Regions from separate parts of the Homo sapiens genome. Here region 2 is linked to region 1. Evidence: fine-mapped expression QTL. A gene starts in region 1. The other region holds a variant in brackets. All regions are shown on one strand. Distances are from middle to middle.

Evidence for each region. PIP is the estimated chance that this variant, and not a neighbour inherited with it, causes the effect.
Region 2: its variant is the best candidate, but not a certain one, in a credible set for the expression of H2AZ2 in thyroid (GTEx, PIP 0.61).

The regions. Positions count from the first base shown.
Region 1 is chr7:44,843,153-44,853,183 of GRCh38, forward strand. It overlaps H2AZ2 (H2A.Z variant histone 2), which reads right to left and starts at 4,935. Exons shown (of 5, transcript NM_012412.5): 1 at 4,817-4,935; 2 at 125-202. The coding sequence starts at 4,819. H2AZ2-DT (H2AZ2 divergent transcript) reads left to right here and starts at 5,319. Exons shown (of 2, transcript NR_187581.1): 1 at 5,319-5,369; 2 at 6,307-6,413. RefSeq lists enhancers at 4,518-5,075, 5,076-5,634 and silencers at 4,561-4,950, 5,211-5,270.
Region 2 is chr7:44,890,371-44,900,401 of GRCh38, forward strand. No RefSeq gene overlaps it. Among named protein-coding and RNA genes, the nearest start is that of PURB, 9.9 kb to the left of the region's middle. The variant A/G (reference allele first, on the strand shown) is at 5,733.

The DNA of each region.
Region 1 (10,031 bases):
AAAAAAAAAAAAAAAAAAAAAAAGTCTGTAGTAATACAAGTAGATTTTTGTAATTGATGAAACATAGGTCATAAATTACAACAGTAAAGAAAATAATAATGTAATGACAGCATGGATTCATTACCTGTAGCCCAGCTCTCTGTGAGCGAGATACTGCCTTAGCCTTGGCCTTCCCACTGTCCTTTCCAGCTTTGCCTCCAGCCTAAATGCAAAAAAAAATTTTTTTGAATGAAAAGAGTTGAAAATACTACTTCAAAAATATTCTGGAAACAGAATTTTTTCTAGTTTTACTTTAGGTAGTTAACAATATGTAGGTGATCCCCTTCCTCATTTGTAAATATACATGGGATTCTATCACCTTTTATAATTTCTATCAAAGAAATCAAACCTTAAACACTTATTTAAAATATTTTTCTTTTTTCTTGAGATGGAGTCTAGCTCTGTTGCCCAGGCTGGAGTGCAGTGGTGCGACCTTGACTCACTGCAAACTCCACCTCCTGGGCTCAAGCGATTCTCCTGCCTCAGCCTCCTGAGTAGCTGAGATTACAGGCGCACACCACCACACATGGCTAATTTTTGTATTTTTAGTAGAGGTGGGTTTCACTATGTTGGCCAAGCTGGTCTTGAACTCCTGACCTCAAGTGATCCGCCCGCCTAGGCCTCCCAAAGTGCTGGGATTACAGGCATAAGCCACAGTGCCAGGCTGAAAAATATGAGATTTTTAAAAACAAACATATTTATCAATTTCCAGATTAAAGAATCTTGCAAGTCAATATAACTTTTATGCATACATGAAATATTTCACAATTTTTATCAATGTCAATGTAACATATATTACTTCCACAGAAATATTTAGAACTTAGCTCTCAGAAAAATAAAGCATGTTCCAAGAAAAAAAAAAAAAACCTCAAAAAATTAAACACAGAATTGTCATATAGTCTAGCAATTCCACTTCTAGGTATACACCTAAAAATTGAAAGCAAGGATTCAAACAAATACATGTATACCCACGTTCACAGAAGCATTATTCAGAATAGCCAAAAGGTAGAAACAATCTTGAGTGTCCAATGATGGATGAACAAAATGATATACATATAATGGAATAGTATTCAGCTTTAAAAAGGAAATTCTGACACAAGCTACAACATGAATGGGCCTTGAGGACATTATGCTAAGGAAAATAAGCCAGTTACAAAAAAGACAAATACTGTATGATTCTACTTATGAGGTCCCTAAAATAGTAAAGTTCATGGTCAGAAAGCAGATTTGTGGTTGCCAGGGGTAGCTGCCTCCTGGGTTCAAGTGATTCTCCTGCCTCAGCCTCCTAAGTAGCTGGTAGTATAGGTGCGCGCCACCATGCCCTGCTAATTTTTGTATTTTTAGTACCAACAAGGTTTCTGCATGTTGGCCAGGCTGGTCTTGAACTCCTGACCTCAAGTGATCTGCCTGTCTCATCCTCCCAAAGTACTGGGATTACAGGCGTGAGCCACTGCGCCTGGCCGAGTTATTGTTGAATGGGTAGAGTTTCCACTTGGGAAGATGAAAAAGTTCTAGAGGCAGAAGGCAGTGATGGTTGCACACTATAAATGTACTTAATGCCACTGAACTGTACGCTTTAAAAAAACCTATTTCTGCATGAAAAAGGCAAAGTATGTGCCAATGTAATGAGCTTTTAAGTAAATATGGGGTATTATAGAGTATATGTGTACACATGTATTTCTAGTAGGTGACACAATAAATTAGAAATGTTATTTGCCTCTCGGGAGGAAATACTAAAGGTCTGACTTAAGAAAACTAATTTTCTCTCATATATTTTGCTTTTACCATTTAAACAGATTATTTCTTTACTGTTAAAAAAAGAAATCAGTTTACAAGATTGGCTGTTTGAGGGGCTATTCTTTCAAAATAGATGGTAAGCTTTGAAATGGCATATCCCCTTTGTAGCTAACCCTTTCCTTAAAAATTTTTTAAAGCTAAAAATTACCCCTGTATACTTCCTCTAATTGCACGTCTAAGTGGATTAAGTGCGTGTCACCCAAGATAATATGGAAGAAAAACAGTAAAACCCTGGCAGGTATCAGAAACAGGAAAAATAAAAATCTAAGAACTAATTCATATTCACTCTCTTATATTAGGTAATTCAACAAGAGACTGATTTAAGTTTACCAGTAAGAACTGAGACGCTCTCTATTTCTACCAGAATGCCTCATATTTTAATAATTTTTGACTATGTTGTTATATAAGAAAAATACAATTTTTGGATTTTTGAGGTCAGCTCCACTAACAAGACAGTCTTACTTACTTCTCAAATAAAAAACCCTTGTTACCTCCATTTGCCCTAATATATAACACTTAAAAACCTCTCAACTGGCATCTAAAATTATAATCACTGTCTTCCTATGACTGGATTGGAAAAAATAAGAAGTAGTCACTAATAAAAAGCCAACAACTACAAAATTCCCCAGGCTCCCCAGGTCATATAATAACTACTCTGCTTAAGCAATTTTATCCTCACTGTTTCAGATATGTCATATTTGGTGTTCTATTTGCTTTTTAAGGAAGTAGACATACAGTCAGGTTTTAAAAGCCTCAATCCATTAAATGACTATTTCCAACATTTAGAGATTCCTGATACATTTCTCATACTTAACAAAAGAAAACTTTTATGGTATCAAACTTATCTGAATATAAAACTATACAATAAATGGATAATTACTTTCTTTCCGATATCCCCTCAAACTGTATATATAGCCTCCCTACTTTGAACATTCATTTTAATATAATTGGTGCTTGAGAACCCAAATCTAAATTTTTTAATTCCAAGAACTGACTTCGTATTAACCTGAGTTAAGGTTGTTGGTTTTAAAAAATTACACACACACACACACACACACACACACACACACACACAGAGAGAGACAGAGAGAGAGAGAGAGGAGGAAGTAGGAGTTCGTTCATTTTACTTGGATAAACTTGCAAACTGGATACTAAGACACTTTCATGTCAGTTTTAACAGACATCTGCTTACTTCCTCTCAGGTTTAAAATCTATCAAGAACGACAACTCAATGTCTCCTGCATTTTTAGCTTATGTTAATACTTATGTATTTTTAGCTACTGGTAAGTGGATATAAAACATATAGCGTATCACTAGAGATTGAAAAATATCTGAAAAACTAGAATTGGCCGTGCGCGGTGGCTCACGCCTGTAATCCCAGCACTTTGTCAGGCCGAGGGGGGCGGATCACAAGGTCAAGAGATCGAGACCATCCTGGCCAACATGGTGAAACCCAATCTCTACTAAAAATACAAAAAATTAGCAGGGCGTGGTGGCGCACGCCTGTAGCTATTCGGGAGGCTGAGGCAGGAGCATCGCTTGAACCCGGGAGGCGGAGGTTGCAGTGAGTGAAGATCGCCCATTGCACTCCAGCCTGGCAACAGAGTGAGACTCCGTCTCAAAAAAAAAAACCACAAAAAACCACAAAAAACAAACAACAAAAAACCAAAAAAAAAAAAAACCACAAAAAACTAGAATCATGAAAATCATCTGTTTGAGCAAATCCTTTTACAGATTAGATGTAAGCTGTACCTCAGTTTGATAAAGTACTATAAAGTACTTTACAATAACAATAAACTATACGTGAGACGTTGGAAGCAATTATCCCTAAAGTCTATTCCAGCTCTAAGATTTGGGTTTTTTACAATAACAATAAACTATACGTTAGACGTTGGAAGCAATTATCCCTAAAGTCTATTCCAGCTCTAAGATTTGGGTATTTTACAATAACCAAACATTGTCCTCTCGACTGGCCAATCTGTTTACAGTTAGGTGTTATGTCTATTCAATACCATATCTGTCACATCAAGCACAAGACAAATCATCTAATACTATCTGCAGTATGATAAATGACAGCTTGGTGCTAACTTTTAAGCAGGTAGCTCCCGTTGAAGTAACCTTTCAACAGAATGCTTAAAGCACGAATACCGGCAAAAATAAGATTCCATAACAGTCTTATTATTTTTACACAATCTTTGATGCAACTCAGAGCGTATCCTTTAGCACCTTCTCTTTTCCCCTCAACTTTAAAATGGGGCTGAAGTTCTATTCACTTTCATTTTTTTAAAGCCACACTCTTCTTATCTAGATCTGAATTTCAGAATGAAAAGATGAATACTTTAAGACTGAAAATCCATAGCAAGGGCAAAGGAAAGTACTGTTGTATAATGAAAACCGCAAACTGCAAGGGGCTCAGAAGATAACGGGCGTTCATTTCTAACCTGTGCAATCACCTAGAACAAATCGTGTGGTTCTGGTCTATAAAACCATTCTTTGTCGCTCAAAAGACCACAAATACAAGCACCCTTTCGCAGAAACCCTCAAACTGACTGCCAGGGAGATTACGTAACCAAACATCGCCAAAGACTTATCTAACTTGTACAGCGGCAGCCTGTTTGACCTCATTCATACAGAGAAGCGATCACATTAAGATCCAGCACTTGTTTCTACATTTCCAAGCCGGATTCTGCCGTCCTCCTCCTTCTAAGACGGGCGGTGCAGCGTCACAAGCGTCGGGACAGATCTATCCGGCTCGGAACAGACTTCGCGCTCTACCCGGCCAGGCCCAGCTCTCACCCGGGGACCCGTGTCGGGCTCCGCAGCTGGGACATGGCGCCCCCCGGCGGGCGGCGAGGGGCTCGGCCGGACGAAGCCCAGACACCCGCAAACTCCCGACTCCACAGGTAGCGGCGCCGACGCCAGGGCCTCCGCGCTCTGCTCTCCCAGGCCCCGTGCCCCCGGCCCACCCGGCCGCCCTTACCATGTTCTCGGCGCCGACTCCGCCTCCGCTCGGCCGCGCGCCCTCCCGCTGCCGACCCGCGCCGCCGCCGCCGCTCTCGCAGCACCGACCGCCGCCGCCGGAGCCGGACAATACCCCGTGCCCGCCTCGCGCTGCTGTGGCCAATGCCCGCTTGTCTTGCTGGTTCGAACCCCAGCGGCTGTTCAATCGCGCGCCTCCTTCTAGCCAGACCCCGCCCCCCCGGCACCGCCTTCCTAACGGCTGTTTGTTTTTGCACACGGCACGCGGAGGCGGGGCCTCCAGCCCCAATAGTGACGCGCTCTCTGCCTTTCACCAGGCGCCCAAGCCTGACGAACAGAAAGGCAAACCAATGAGATTGGACGCCTCGCAGACGAAAGCCAATAAAAATATCGCCCGCGAGCAAGGGAGGCGGGCCACTGGGAAGGACAGCAAAATTAGCTAATAAGGTGAAGCGATTGCAGGCGCTGTGGCTTTCCCGCCCATTCGCGGCGTTGGTTTTCCCGCTTCTGAGACTTGTTTGGGGAGGTAAAGAGTGTTGGACGTGCTTCTCCTGGTGGGTTTTCACAGACTGTGAGGATTTATTCGTCTTAGAACGTGTGGATCAGGAGGGCGCTGGGTTTCAAGGTTAGGCAGGCCTCATGCTCAGCCGTATTCTGGCGGACTGACTACCCTGACGTCCTCTCAGCGCGGACCCTGACAAGGTCCGCGGCAGGCTGAGGCGGGAGAATCGCTTGAACCCCGGAGGCGGAGGTTGCAGTGAGCCGAGATCGCGCCACTGCACTCCAGCTGGGCGACGCATCGTCTCAAAACAAACAAACAAAAACAAAAGCTATCAATTGGCTACATATTGTTATTTGTATGACAAATTCTTTTTCCTTTTTTAGAGATGGAGTCCTGGGACTACAGGCGCGCGCCCCAATGCCCAGCTAACTTTTGTATTTTTAATAGAGACGGGGTTTCTCCGTGTTGGTCAGGCTGGTCTCGAACTCCTGACCTCAGGTGATCTGCCCCCCTTTGCCTCCCAAAGTACTGGGATTACAGGCGTGAGCCACCGCGCCCGGCATGTATTACAAATTCTAAGAACACGAAGATAATGGGGCCGGCTTGGTGGCGCGAACCTGTAGCCTCACCTACTGTCAAGACTGAGACAGGAGGATCTCTTGAGCCCAGGAGGTCGAGGCTGCAGTGAGTCATGATCGCACCACTGCACTCCAGCTTGGGAGACAGAATATACCCTGTCTAAAAAATAATAATAAAAAAAAAGGTAATGGATGAGGCCGATAGTCAGGAATGAAATGACTTTAAACAATTGGGTATGCATGGGATTGGGTATGTGTGTATGTGGGGGCAGAGGGTGGGCATAACCGAAGTCCCATACTCATGTCCCTCTAGGCCTAATACATTTTGCAGACCTCACAGAGCTCAGACTGTTGTGAGCCGTTTTTCTTTTCTCAACCTCTTCAGTGTGTTTATTTTGCTTACATCATTAGGTTAAAATTTGGAGGATAACTCCCAGCTAGAAAGGAAGAAAAGCTCTAAAGTGGAATCGCCTTCCCCCGGAAGCTGTTGTAAAAATTAAAGGATGTATGTGAGTGCACAGGCTCTCCAGCGATCGTTTTTCTTCCACAGTGTTAACACAATTTATTTATTTATTTACTTTTTGAGATGAAGTCTCACTCTGTTGCCCAGGCTGGATGGAGTGCAGTGGTGTGATCTGGGCTCACTGCAACCTCCGCCTCCTGAGTTCAAGCGATTCTCCTGCCTCAGCCTCCTGGGTAGCTGGGACTAAAGGCTCCCACCACCATTCCCCGCTAGTTTTTGTATTTTTAGTAGAAATAGGGTTTCACCATGTTGGCCAGGCTGGTCTTGAACTCCTGACCTCAAGTGATCCTCTCGCCTCAGCCTCCTAAAGTGCTGGGATTACAGGCGTGAGCCACCGCGCCTGGCCTGTTTCCACAATTAAAAAAGGCCCATCACCCTATCATGATCATCTCTATTACAGTCTGGACAATATGAGCTTTCTGGGAGAGCCAGCTTCATTTCATAACTGAAGAAATGGGCTTAGGTGAACTTAGTCATTTGCCTGAGACCGCATAGCCTGTAGATAACCAAGATACCAGCTCACATTTGTTCCAACTCATTCCAGCTTTAAATTCTTTCATTCTTTTCACAGTATGATGCATTGACTGTGCTAGAATGTGTTCTTGGTGTTGGTGAGTTAATAGTGAAAAAAACAAGTTTCTGCCTTAGTGGAGATTCTGTTGTCATAGGATTTTCCCAGGCTGGCACTTTAGAAATTTATATCCAGGCTGATGATAGCTGTTCCAAAGTTTGAATCAGGAGAAGCAACTTTGGGGAAGTGAGTCTTTAAAAAAAGGTAACTTAAATTCAAGAAGAGGAAGAGGGTGAGCTTCTAAGTAAGAATTTGGAAAAATACGGATGAAGGTACAGACAAGTGTGAGGAAGGGTGTCCAGTGAAATAGGAAGGAATGGAGCAATGTGCCCAGATTAATAGAAGCCTCAAAACTAGGTAGAAGAGTGGAGTTACTTCAGTAAAAATAGCCATTGTTAATTCCTGCTCCTCTGTGTTTCTGGCCTCAGTGGATGGCATTACCAATCTACCAAGGCATAAGCCTGTGAGTTATTCCTTTAACAAATCACTCAGTGCCTACTGTTTGCAGGCACTGTGCTAGGTACTGAGGATTTGGTGATTAGCAAAATAGACATTGTCCTTGCCCTTGTGGTCCTCTGCAGCGGGAGTCAGATGTTAAAGAAATAAACAAATACCATATGTGAATTATAATAAGTTCAAGTGTGCTGAAGGAAAAGAACAGGGTGCTTTAAGAGAGAAACAGGGAATGTAGTTTAGCTGGTGTGGGTGGTCCACAAAGAGCATGCAGGCTGGGCGTGGTGGCTCACTCCTGTAATCCCAGCAATTTGGGAGGCCAAGGTGGGTGGATCATCTGAGGTCAGGAGTTCGAGACCAGCCTGGCCAACATGGCAAAACCCTGTCTCTACTAAAAATGCAAAAATTAGCCAGGCGTGGTGGCGCATGCCTGTTATTCCCAGCTACTCAGGAGGCTGACGCAGGAAAATCACCTGGGCCCAGGAGAGCCTGGGAAGCGGAGGCTGCAGTGAGCTAAGATTGCGCCACTGCACTTCAGCCTGGGCGACAGAGCAAGACTCCACTCCATCTCAAAAAAAAAAAAAAAAAGAAGAGTTGCCCTTGTGAAGGGGGGCTGAAAGAAGTGTCCAATAATGTATGAGAAAGCACCTAGCACTGTACCTAGCACATAATATCCAATAAATGTTAACTTCCTTCCTTAACAGGAAAATCATTTTCTCACCACTCTCTACCCCTCAGCCTTCATGTCATTGATTCAGATTTTGATGAAAGTGGAGTTAGGTTGAAAAAGACTGGTTCTCATTGTAGATAATAGTAATCCTTTCACTGATTTATATATCATCACTAAATTATATCATCACTGTAAACACAGATGCCAGAAAAAAGTCTGCCTACTAACAGTTTTATAAACCAAGTGTGTTAGTAAAATTTAGTTTCTAGTGAACTAGGGTAACAAAAAAGGCAAAGATGAGCTCATGAAGAACACCAGTCTAACCAGAAAATGTTATGTATTAGCATCTATAAATGATAAACTACAAACATTGACAAATTATTCAACTTTGGGCTGGGGATGGTAGCTCATGCCTGTAATCCTAAAGCTTTGGGAGGCCAAGGCATGAGTCACCAGGGCAGGAGTTTGAGACCAGCCTGGGCAACATGGCAAGACTCCACTTCTACAAAAATTAAAAGAAAAAAATTAGCTGAGTGTGTGGCACATGCCTGTGATCCCAGCTAGTTGAGAGGCTGAGGTGGGTAGAGAACTTGAGCCCACGAGTTCAAGGCTGCAGTGAGCTATGTATGATTGTGTCACTGCTCACCAGACAGGCAACAGAACCAGACTGTATCTCTAAAAAAAAAATTATTCAATGTTGCTGGATTTAACCCAGTAATATATAGTATAATTGTTCTCAAAGTGTGATCCTTAGACCACCAGCATCAGCATCACTTGGAACTTGTTAGAAATGTATTCTCACCACCACCCCAGACCTGCTGAATCTGACACTGAGGGTGGGACCTACAAGCGCTCCAGGGGATTCTGGTGCATACTGAAATTTAAGAACCACTGGTATAGTATATGCTGCAGTGCACAGTCCAGAGCCCACGTATTCCTTATAAAACTGGAGCACTTGGCCAGGTGTGGTAGCTCATCCCTGTAATCTCAGAACTTTGGGAGGCTGAGGTGGGCAGATCACCTGAGGTCAGGAGTTCCAGACCAGCTTGGCCAACATGGTGAAACCCCATCTCTACTAAAACAAAAATTAGCTGGGTGTAGTGGCATGCGCTTGTAGTCCCAGCTACTCTGGGAGGCTGAGGCAGGAGAATCACTTGAACCCAGGAGGTGGAAGTTGCAATGAGCCGAGATGACGCCACTGCACTCCAGCCTGGGCAACAGAGCAAGACTCTGTCTCAAAAAAACAAAAACAAAAAAACTGGAGCACTTATTTAGCTCCTGGAAGTGTTGACTGATCATTACTCAGGGATCTCTACCCAGGAATTGGACTTGGCCAAAGGAAGCTGTATCGCCCAAGTTTACACTCCTTTTTAGGGGGCCTACCTCCAGTGACTGGTGGATGTAGGATATAGTGCCTAGCTCTTTTGCCTTAATTTGAGACAATTCTGAAGGGCCATTCCAGCTCCAGAGTTTCTTGTGTGATTAGTTTTGACTTGATCTAACTGCATTGAAGTTCAACTTCTGCGTAATCCTACTTCCTCTATTTTCTCCTAGTAATGTCCCCAAGAGCATTCCATACTATTACCTCTTGAAAGCAAATCCCATTTGTTTCCTGGGAAACCTGAACTAAGACAATGACTTTTCTCTGCAAAAATGTAGTCAATTTTTGAGTAGGCAAGATATTCACACGTACAAAATTTCAAAATGTACAAAGGGTATACAGTGAAAAGACTCCCCTGGTGCAGTGGCTCATGCCTGTAATCTCAGCACTTTAGAGGTTAAGGCAGGAGGATCGCTTGAGCCCAGGAGTTCGAGACCAGTGTGGGTGACATAGTGAGACCCACATCTCTGTGAAAAATAAAAAAAATAAGCCGGGCGCGGTGGCTCACGCCTGTAATCCCAGCACTTTGGGAGGCCGA
Region 2 (10,031 bases), 47 kb after region 1:
GTCTTGAACTCCTGACCTCATGATCCACCTGCCTTGGCCTCCAAAAGTGCTGGGATTACAGGCGTGAGCCACAACACCTGACCTATTTTTTATTTTTTTATTTTTATTTTATTTTTTGAGGTGGAGTCTCACTCTTTCGCCCAGTCTGGAGTGTAATGGCACGGTCTCGGCTCACTGCCACCTGCCTCCCAGGATCAAGTGATTCTCCTACCTCAGCCTCCCGAGTAGCTGGGACTATGGGTGTGTGCTACCACACCTGGCTAATTTTTGTAATTTTAGTAGAGACAGGGTTTCACTGTTGGTCAGGCTGGTCTCAAACTCCTGACCTTGTGATCCGCCGGCCTTGGCCTCCCAAAGTGCTGGTATCACAGGCGTGAGCCACCGTGCCTGGCCGAGGATTATTTTGAAGTAGGTGCTCAGATGATGAGGGACCAAGGCTAACCTTAGCAAAATAAGGCTAAGAGGATGAACTCTTTAGATGAAGATGATATCAAACACTGAATTGAGGCTTTCACAGTTCCCCTTGCTGCAGATGTTAGGTACTTCTCCCCTGTGTAATTCACAATACATGGCACATAACAGGATGAGCTGCTTTGATGCATTTTTGGAATATCAAATACTTTCCTCAGAAGTTTTTTACTTCTTAGTGGCCTTGAGTCCCTGCTTTGACTGCTTTTTGGCAATTTGAGCGTAATTGAGGATGGATCTCACTGTTGGCATGTTAAATTTGAGGAGCTGGCCGAATGCCTGAGAGGATATTTCCAAGTGTCTCTGGAACTCAGAGAATCAGAGTCCAGAAAAGAGGCAAGTAACAGAGATGCAGGTTTGGGAGCCACCAGCAGACAGGTGGAGTGGACATCAGGCTCAGAGAGGGTTGTGTGGGGAAATCAGGGAAAGATGAAGAGGATGAGGAGAGAGAAAGGCCAAGGGGTCAGAAGACTGTGAGGTCACAGGTGATAGTTCATAGTGAGCTGTATATGAACTATGTACTTGGGCTTCCCACAAGTTTTGGAAACACATCACAAATCACCCAGCTCTTAGGAGGTGGAGCAGAGACTGGAACTCGAGTCTTCTGATTCTAAATTCTGTGTCTCTGACACTGTGTCACTTTGGGGCCCCAGGGGATGGAAGCCAGATGTCAGAACGCTCACAAGTAAATGCAGGGGCAGGAAGTGTAGATTGAGGAGGTATTTCATGTGGCAGAAGGTGACAAAAGATGGGTACTGGCAAAGGAAGGCAGGATGAAGGCTGTTTTACCCCAGAGAAACCTGAGCCAGCTCTGAGGCTGAGGAGAGGAGAGGGGTGCTGAGGGGTCATGACAGAAGCCTCTCAGTGAGGCCTGGAGTAGGCACAGAAGTTGGGCACTCAGGAAAGGAATTGGGTCCTAGAACATGAGAAGGCATCCTTTTTCTTCTGAGATCAAGGAGAGAAAAGGAGATACTGGAGCTTCCAGTGGAGAGGAGGGAAGTTGGAGGAGTTCTTGGTGAAAGGGCCTAAGAGTGAGGCCACACTAAGGAGGAGGCTGCAAAGACCTGTGAGGCCTGGGCTGGACTAAAAGCCTGCTGAACAGCCCCAGGGCCTGGCCAAGACTAGGGCAGAAGCAGGATGGGCTAGATCTGCACCTTGGAGGAGCTGGGAGTCTGGGCTGGAGGCAGCAGATGGAAGTGGGCCTTGCCAGGGCTGGGAGATGGTTGTGGGGGTGCCAGATCCTGGGGACAGTAGCCTCAGATGGCCAGCCATGGGCAGACAAAGCTGGGCATTCAGGAGAACCAGGCCTGGAGAATGAGGAAGGGTTTGCACATTGCAGGGTGGGCACGCCTTTTTTCCCTCATTGCTTTTCCTTGTAGACTTTTTACTTGTTTATTTTTGAGACATGTTCTCGCTCGGTTGTCTAGGCTGGAGTGCAATGGCGTGATCTCTGCTCACTGCAGCCTCTGCCTCCTGGACTCAAGCAATCCTCCCACCTCAGCTCCCAGAGTAGCTGGGATTACAGGCATGTGCTACCACACCCAGTTAATTTTTAAAATATTTTTTGTAGAGATGGGGTTTTGCCATGTTGCCCAGGCTGGTCTCGAACTCCTGAGCTCAAGCAATCTAACCGCTTTGGCCTCCCAAAGTTGGATTACAGGCATGAGCTCGGCCTTCCTTTTAAACTTAAAATGTAAACTTACAGAACAGCTGCAATAATAGTATTCTTCACACAGATTCCCCAAAATGTTAACATCACGGTGTTTGTGTCATTACGCTTTTCATCTTTATGTTTCTTCATCTCTGTCTCTACACACACACACACACACACACACACACACACACACACACACGCTATTTGACATTTTTCTTTCTCCTGAACCATTTGAGAATAAACTGAAATATGATGACCACTTACCTTTAAACACTTCAGTGTCTATTCAAGGTCATTCTCTCACCTATCTAGAGCACAACAATCAAAATCGAGAAACCAGCACAGATCTGACAATGTTGTCTAATCTGCAGACTTTATTATTCAGATTTCACCAAGTGTCTTGATTGCATCCTCTACAGCAAAGGAGACTTTTGCAGCATTAACTGCCACAGGCCCACCCCCAACCACCACTTCTTTTTTAAGACAGAGTCTCACTCTGTCACCCAGGCTGGAGTACAGTGGCGCTATCTTGGCTCACTGCAACCTCTACCTCCTAGGTTCAAGCGACCCTCCTGCATCAGCCTCCTGAGTAGCTGGGATTACAGGTGTGTGCCACCATGCCCGGCTAACTTTTGTAATTTTAGTAGAGATGGGGTTTCACCATATTGGCCAGGCTCGTCTCAAACTCCTGACCTCAGGTGATCTGCCCACCTTGGCCTCGAAAAGTGTTGGGATTACAGATGTGAGCCACCGCGCCCAGCTACCCCACTCTCTTTAATCTGGAGCCATCCCTGGGTCTCTCTTTGTCTTTCACATGAGTGACATTTTGAAATATGAAGGCCGATTATTTTGTAGTTTGTCCCCATTTGTGTTTGCCGGGAGTGCTTCCTGACCACAATCTGAAAACTCCTCACGTCCTGGCTGGCTCAACTTCCCGTAGTGAGTGAGACGTTGCCTGTTGTGCCTGATGCTGAGAAGAGGACGAGGAGATGGTTGAAGGTCCCAGGGTCAGGGACAGGCTGGCAGGAGAGCTTGGGGATGGTCAAAAGGGGATTGCGATGGATGGAGACTGCATATGTGCTTCCTGGGCCCTCCTGCTTTGAGCTGCTTAGAAGCTGCAGTCTTCTTTGCCTTTCCTGCCCATCAGGCATTAAACTGAACTAGAGGGAACAAGACAAGATGACAGTTAGGAGAAACTGGTGTCCAGGATATGCCATCCTAGCGGGTGCTGACACTGAGATTCCCAGGCCAGGCACCCCGTGCTGCAAATGCTTTGCAGCTTGACACTCTGGGCCAAGTATCCAGCTGGCTTGCTTTGAAGCCTCCAGTGATGTTTTTTGGATTTGTGTGGCTGAAAGGAAGTTTGTGCATCTTGCACAGTCTAAAGAGATTGCCTAATTCTGGCTCTGGGCAGAAGGCCCACACCTGCCGTTTATTCTGGGGATTTTTGTCTTATGTAAGGTAGAAAATCAATTCCTTGTGTTAGTATTGGGTTCCAGGAAGCGGAGTTCTCAGCCTCAGGGCTTATCAATCAAATCAGCTGCCCTCCATGATTTGTAGTTCCTCTTCTGGCACGCCCAGAGGTTGGGAAGCTGCGTTAGGCACAGTTGCTGTGCCCTGTGGAGTCTGCACTCACCTAGTGCTCCCTGGGGGCCTCATGAGCCCCTGGAAGATTGATATGTTAAAGGACTGGAGCCTTGAGGCCCTGCGTGTGGCTCACGCCTGTAATCCCAGCACTTTGGGAGGCAGAGGCAGACGGATCATTTGAGGTCAGGGGTTTGAAACCAACCTGGCCAACACGGTGAAACCTCGTCTCTACTAAAAATACAAAAATTAGCCGGGCATGGTGATGGGCACCTGTAATCCCAGCTACTTGGGAGGCTGAGGCAGGAGAATTGCTTGAGCCCGGGAGGCAGAGGTTGCAGTGAGCAGAGATTGTGCCGCTGCACTCCAGTCTGGATGACAGAGTAAGACTCTGTTTCAAACAAACAAACAAACAAACAAACAAACAAAAAACTGGAGCCTTGAAACATTCCAAACCTTCACTGCCCAGTGTTCCTGGGACAAGTTACTTCACTTCTGTGGGTCATGCCCTCCTGGAGGGCAGGCACTTGCACCTTACAGAGCTGCCTGAGCAGTAAGGAAGGTATTGTGTGCAGGCCACTTGTGGATGTGTTTGGTACATCCATGCTCAAATATGTTGCTGCTGTTATTGATGTTATTCATGAATATGGTTGAGCTTTCTCCATAAATCTCCTGGCTGGCTCCATATTCTATAAGACTCTACTGGTTTCAGCTAATGTTGGGTGGAGAGAACCTGCAAATAAAACACAGATGTACTTGGATGAGGGAGTTGAAACCCCCAAATGCAATGATCTTCAAGGGAACAGGATGCCTAGGAACATAGTGGTTGGAAAGCATATCAGCTGGTGATGAATAAGCAGGTCTGAGGCAGTCATAACCAGGGTCACTGGTGTTTGAACCCACTCATTTATATCCTGAAACAATAGGGGAAGGACTTACACACATGGCCTTCTGTGGGGTGGCTTCTGCCCTTCATGCCCTGTCTCTCAGCCAACAGCTGAGTATGAGAAGCCTCCTCCTAGACTCCCAGCTGCCCCTGACCCCTGGCCAGGGCCAGCTGTTGTGCCAACAAAGCCTCCAGTCAGGGGCTCTGGTCCCAGCTGCTGTGGGGAACAGGTTTGACCTTTCCAAGCGCCCATAGGTCACTTGTGGTCTTTCTGTGGAGACAGCCAACAGCCCATCTGTTCTTGCTTCTCATCTCACTCAGAAAATCCTAGCGCTCCCCCTGCTCCACTGGAACCCCTCATTTCCTGGGGATTCTATTTCTGCCTCCCCTGAACCTTCCAGAAGGGCCTTCTGGCTCAGAACCAGACCCCTGCCTGGTTACTCCGTCTGCCCTTCTGCCTGATTAGAGCAAGGGTCTCGCACAGGCTGGACAATGCCCAAGTCTGTGCTGAGCACAAAACAAGGCCATGTGATGGAGGGGCAGGGTTTCTGGATGCTGTCATTAATGATAACAGCCTGAACTATATCCATGACCTTTAAAAACATCTTTAACTGAAGGAAGTTAAAATACAGAAAGAGGGAAGATTAGGACAAACCTTATGGTTGGATTAGATTTAGAGATATTGGTAGGAGCTCATGATTTCATTACATGCACACACACACACAGAGATTGATATAGAAATTTGGCTGGGCGCAGTGGCTCACGCCTGCAATCCCAGCACTTTGGGAGGCCGAGGTGGGCAGATGACTTGAAGTCAGGAGTTCAAGACCAGCTTGGCCAACATGGCAAAATCCAGTCTCTACTAAAAATACAAAAAGAATTAGCTGGGTGTCATGGCGCATGCCTGTAATCCCAGCTACTCGGGAGGCTGAGGCAGGAGAATTACTTGAACCCAGGAAGCAGAGGTTGCAGTGAGCTGAGATCGCGCCACTGCACTCCAGCCTGGGCAACAGAGTGACCTGTCTCAAAAAAAAAAATACACATATGCATATTTACACACAGATATGGGAGTACACACATAAGCGAATTCACACTCATGCAGACAGATATAGAAATACATACATATGCAAATTCATATGC[A/G]TACAGATATAGAAATACACACGGCCACATAGGTATGGGTGCGTGTATATTTGAACACATGTATGTGTGCTAGAAGCAATGATGGCCTCGGGGGGAACAAGCACAACTGGGACCCAGATCTTGGTTTGTTGATACCATGCTCTAAAAGGAACCAGAGCTCCTTGGAGAAATGACTGATTTTGGGTTAGAGAAGAGAAAACATAAATTGAGCCTGGAATATCTTGTGTCAGAAAGTAAGTCTTTAAAAAAAGGAGGGATGGCCGGGTGCAGTGGCTCATGCCTGTAATCCCAGCACTTTGGGAGGCCAAGGCGGGCGGATCACGAGGTCAGGAGATCAAGACCATCCTGGCTAATACGGTAAAACCCCGTCTCTACTAAAAATACAAAAAATTAGCTGGGCATAGTGGCGGACGCCTGTAGTCCCAGCTACTCAGGAGGCTGAGGCAGCAGAATGGCGTGAACCCGGGAGGCGGAGCTTGCAGTGAGCCGAGATTGTGCCACTGCACTCCAGCCTGGGCGACAGAGTGAGACTCTCTCAAAAAAACAAAACAAAACAAACAAAAAAACAAAAAAACGAGGGGACATGTCAAAGGGACACTCTTGCTGGCTAAATCTGTGACAATTTAGTCTTGAAATAAATAATGATAGCAACAGGCAAAGGGACACTCCTGCTGGCTAAATCTGGGACAATTTAATCATGAAATAAATAATAATAGCAAGAGAATATCAGCTACTGAATAAAATAAGGATTCATGTATACGTGCTGATATACATAAATAAATGAGAGCAAGAATCGTTCTTCCTTATAATAGAATGCCACATGATAAATATGGGAAAAATGATGGAATTTGAAACCAGTGGGTTAAAGTTTGCTGAGTAAAAATATATACATTGGCCAGGCGTGGTGGCTCACGCCTGTAATCCCAGCACTTTGGGAAGCCGAGGTGGGTGGATCACGAGGTCAGGAGTTTGAGACCAACCTGACCAACATGGTGAAACCCCATCTCTACTAAAAATACAAAAAAATTAGCTTGGCATGGTGGCGCGTGCCTGTAATCCCAGCTACTCGGGAGGCTGAGGCAGGAGAATCGCTTGAACCTGGGAGGCAGAGGTTGCAGTGAGCTGAGATTGTGCAACTGCACTCCAGCCTGGGCGACAGAGTGAGACTCTGTCTCAAAAAAAAAAAAAATTACATAGTCTCCCCAGAAGTACATATTAATTACAGAAGGAAAATTAGCAACTCTACAGTGATAAACCTGGCATTCACTGCCTTATCCCAGTGATCACAGTTAACAGCAGCAGAAATGGGACACATGGGCATCATGAACCTCCTGATACGATCACCAAGAAGGACATAGCATCACTTCTTTAGTATTTCCACACAAAATGCAAAACCTGAGTCTCATCAGGAGGAAATAGCAGACAAACTCACATTGGGGGAAATTCCACAAAACCACAGGCTATGAAATAACTACAAAAATGTCAGTGTCATGAAAGAGAAAAACTGAAGAATGGTTTCAGATTAAAGGAAAATTAAGAGAAGTAATGACAGTATGTGTTTGGGCTCTTCTTTGCCATAACAAACATTAAGGTCTGTAAATCAGATAATAACACTGTGTTAATGTTAATTTCCTGATTTTGATAATTGTACTTTGGTTATGTAAGGTAATATCTTTGTTTTTAGGAAATACACACTGAAGTATTTAGAAATGAAAGAGACATAATTGCTGCAATTTACACTCATTCAGAAAAAGGCATACACATTCACAGAGAATGATAAAGCAAACGTGGGAAAGTATTAACAGTTGGAGAATGGTAAAGGGTGTTAAATTAAATATGCTGGCTGGGTGTGGTGGCTCACACCTGTACTCCCAGCACTTTGGGAGGCCGAGGTGGGAGGACCACTTGAGCTCAGGCCAGCCTGGGCAACAGAGTGAGACCTTGTCTCCAAAAAAATTTAAATAAGCAGGAGGCCATTAGCCTGAGGCTGTCTCTGTTTTTTGAATTCCGGCATAATACAATGCAACCTAACTTAGTATATAAAGAAACCAAAACTTAAGAGTATGTTTTTTGTAATAAATAGCCAGATTTCAGCCAATCACAACAGCCAAGCTTCAGCAAATGACAGGCCGCCAACTCATCATACCATGCCCAAATAAGGCAGATGCCTGGCTGTAGCCAATCAAGTGATTTCTTTATTTTTGTGTTCAGCCTATAAAAGCTCACTGTTCACTGCCAGGCAGAGGTCCCTGAACCTCTCCTTTTTTTTTTTTTTTTTTTTTTAAGATGGAGTCTGGCTTTGTCGCCCAGGCTGGAGTGCAGTGGCGTAATCTTGGCTCACTGCAAGCTCCGCCTCCCAGGTTCACTCCATTCTCCTGCCTTAGCCTCCCGAGTAGCTGCGTCTACAGGCGCCCACCACCATGCCTGGCTAATTTTTTGTGCTTTTAGTAGAGGCGGGGTTTCACCGTGTTAGCCAGGATGGCCTCTATCTCCTGACCTTGTGATGTGCCTGCCTCGGCTTCCCAAAGTGCTGAGATTACAGGCATGAGCCACCTCACCCGGCCCTGAACCTCTTCTGATTCTGAGTGCTAATTGATTCAGGAATTGTTATTTACTCAGATAAACTGTTAAACTTGTTTCTAAAGCTTTTTTTTTTAACAAGGATATACAGAAATTCTTTTTATTTTATTTATTTATTTATATATTTTTTTTGAGACGGAGTCTCACTCTGTTGCCCAGGCTGGAGTGCAGTGGTGTGATCTCGGCTCACTGCAACGTCTGCCTCCTGGGTTCAGGTGATTCTCCCGCCTCAGTCTTCCGAGTAGCTGGGATTACAGGCACGCGCCACCACGCCTAGCTAATTTTTGTGTTTGTAGTAGAGACAGAGTTTTGCCATGTTGGCCAGGCTGGTCTTGAACCCCTGAACTCAGGTGATCCTCCAGCCTCAGCCTTCCAAAGTGTTAGGATTATAGGCATGAGCCACCATGCCCAGCCATATACAGAAATTCTTTGTGCTGTTCTTGCAACTTTTCTCAAAGTCTGAAATTATGTAAAAATAAAAAGTAAAAAGAAACCTTCAACTTCTTGAAATGTTTTAAAAATGATTTAAAATAAATTTTGTTAGTGCTCTTTTTCCCATTGTATTCTTTTCGTTTTCACTGTCTAGTTTAGCATGAAATCCTTGTAATTGGTCCCTTGCCTATTTAGAATCTCTATGAAGATCTTCTAAGGGCCTCTGAGCCATGGTGAGTTCTCTCTGGACAGAGACACACAGCCCTCTGGTATACTCTTAAGCATTTACCATGTTCTGCCTTAGGATGCAGCTATTTCTGAAGTCTTCTTTTCCTGCATACTTGCAAACTCCTTAGGGTCAGGGACTATCTCTTATTTTTGTATCTTCGTTGTAAACACTCACTAAATATTTAATGGAATTAAATTGAAAAGTAGTACACAATTTTCAACTTTCCATTCATTAAACATGAAAATGAACGCACATTAGACAATCATAACTGAGTTTCAACAGAACATCCTGATGATGTCACTATGTTTCTTCTCCTATTTAAAAATGTGTTCTTGGCTGGGCGTGGTGGCTCACGCCTGTAATCTCAGCACTTTGGGAGGCTGAGGTGGGCAGGTCACGAGGTCAGGAGTTCGAGACCAGCCTGGTCGACATTGCAAAACCCCGTTTTTACTACAAATACAAAAATTAGCTGGGCATGGTGGTGGGCGCCTGTAATCCCAGCTACTCGGGAGGCTGAGGCAGGAGAATCGCTTGAACCTGGGAGGCAGAGGTTGCAGTGAGCCAAGATCGTGCCACTGCACTCCAGCCTGGGCAACAAAAGCAAGACTCCATCTCAAAAAAAATAAATAAATAAAAAATAAAAAATAAAAATGTGTTCTCCTTTGACAAATATGCTTTTATTGTAGAAAATTTTGAAATTTCAGAAAAGAAACAAAATAAGAACATGTAAATGATTCAGAATGCTGCGTGCTACACAGAGATATTAGTGTCTAGCCTTCTGAGTTTTTCCTATGCAAAATTTTAAATGCAAATTTACACATATATGGGTGTATAAATATATATATGTATATATATTTGTATTACATAACTAAGATCCAACCATGCATACTGATGTGTAACATGAAATTTTTATTTTATGCACAGGATTAGACTGATCAAAATCTTTGGTTCATGATACACTCTCATTGTTAATCCATTTATTCATTCATTCATTTGCTAATAATGTTTTCATAAAACTTCTTGAATTACCAGCCAACTCAAGAACTAGAACACTGACA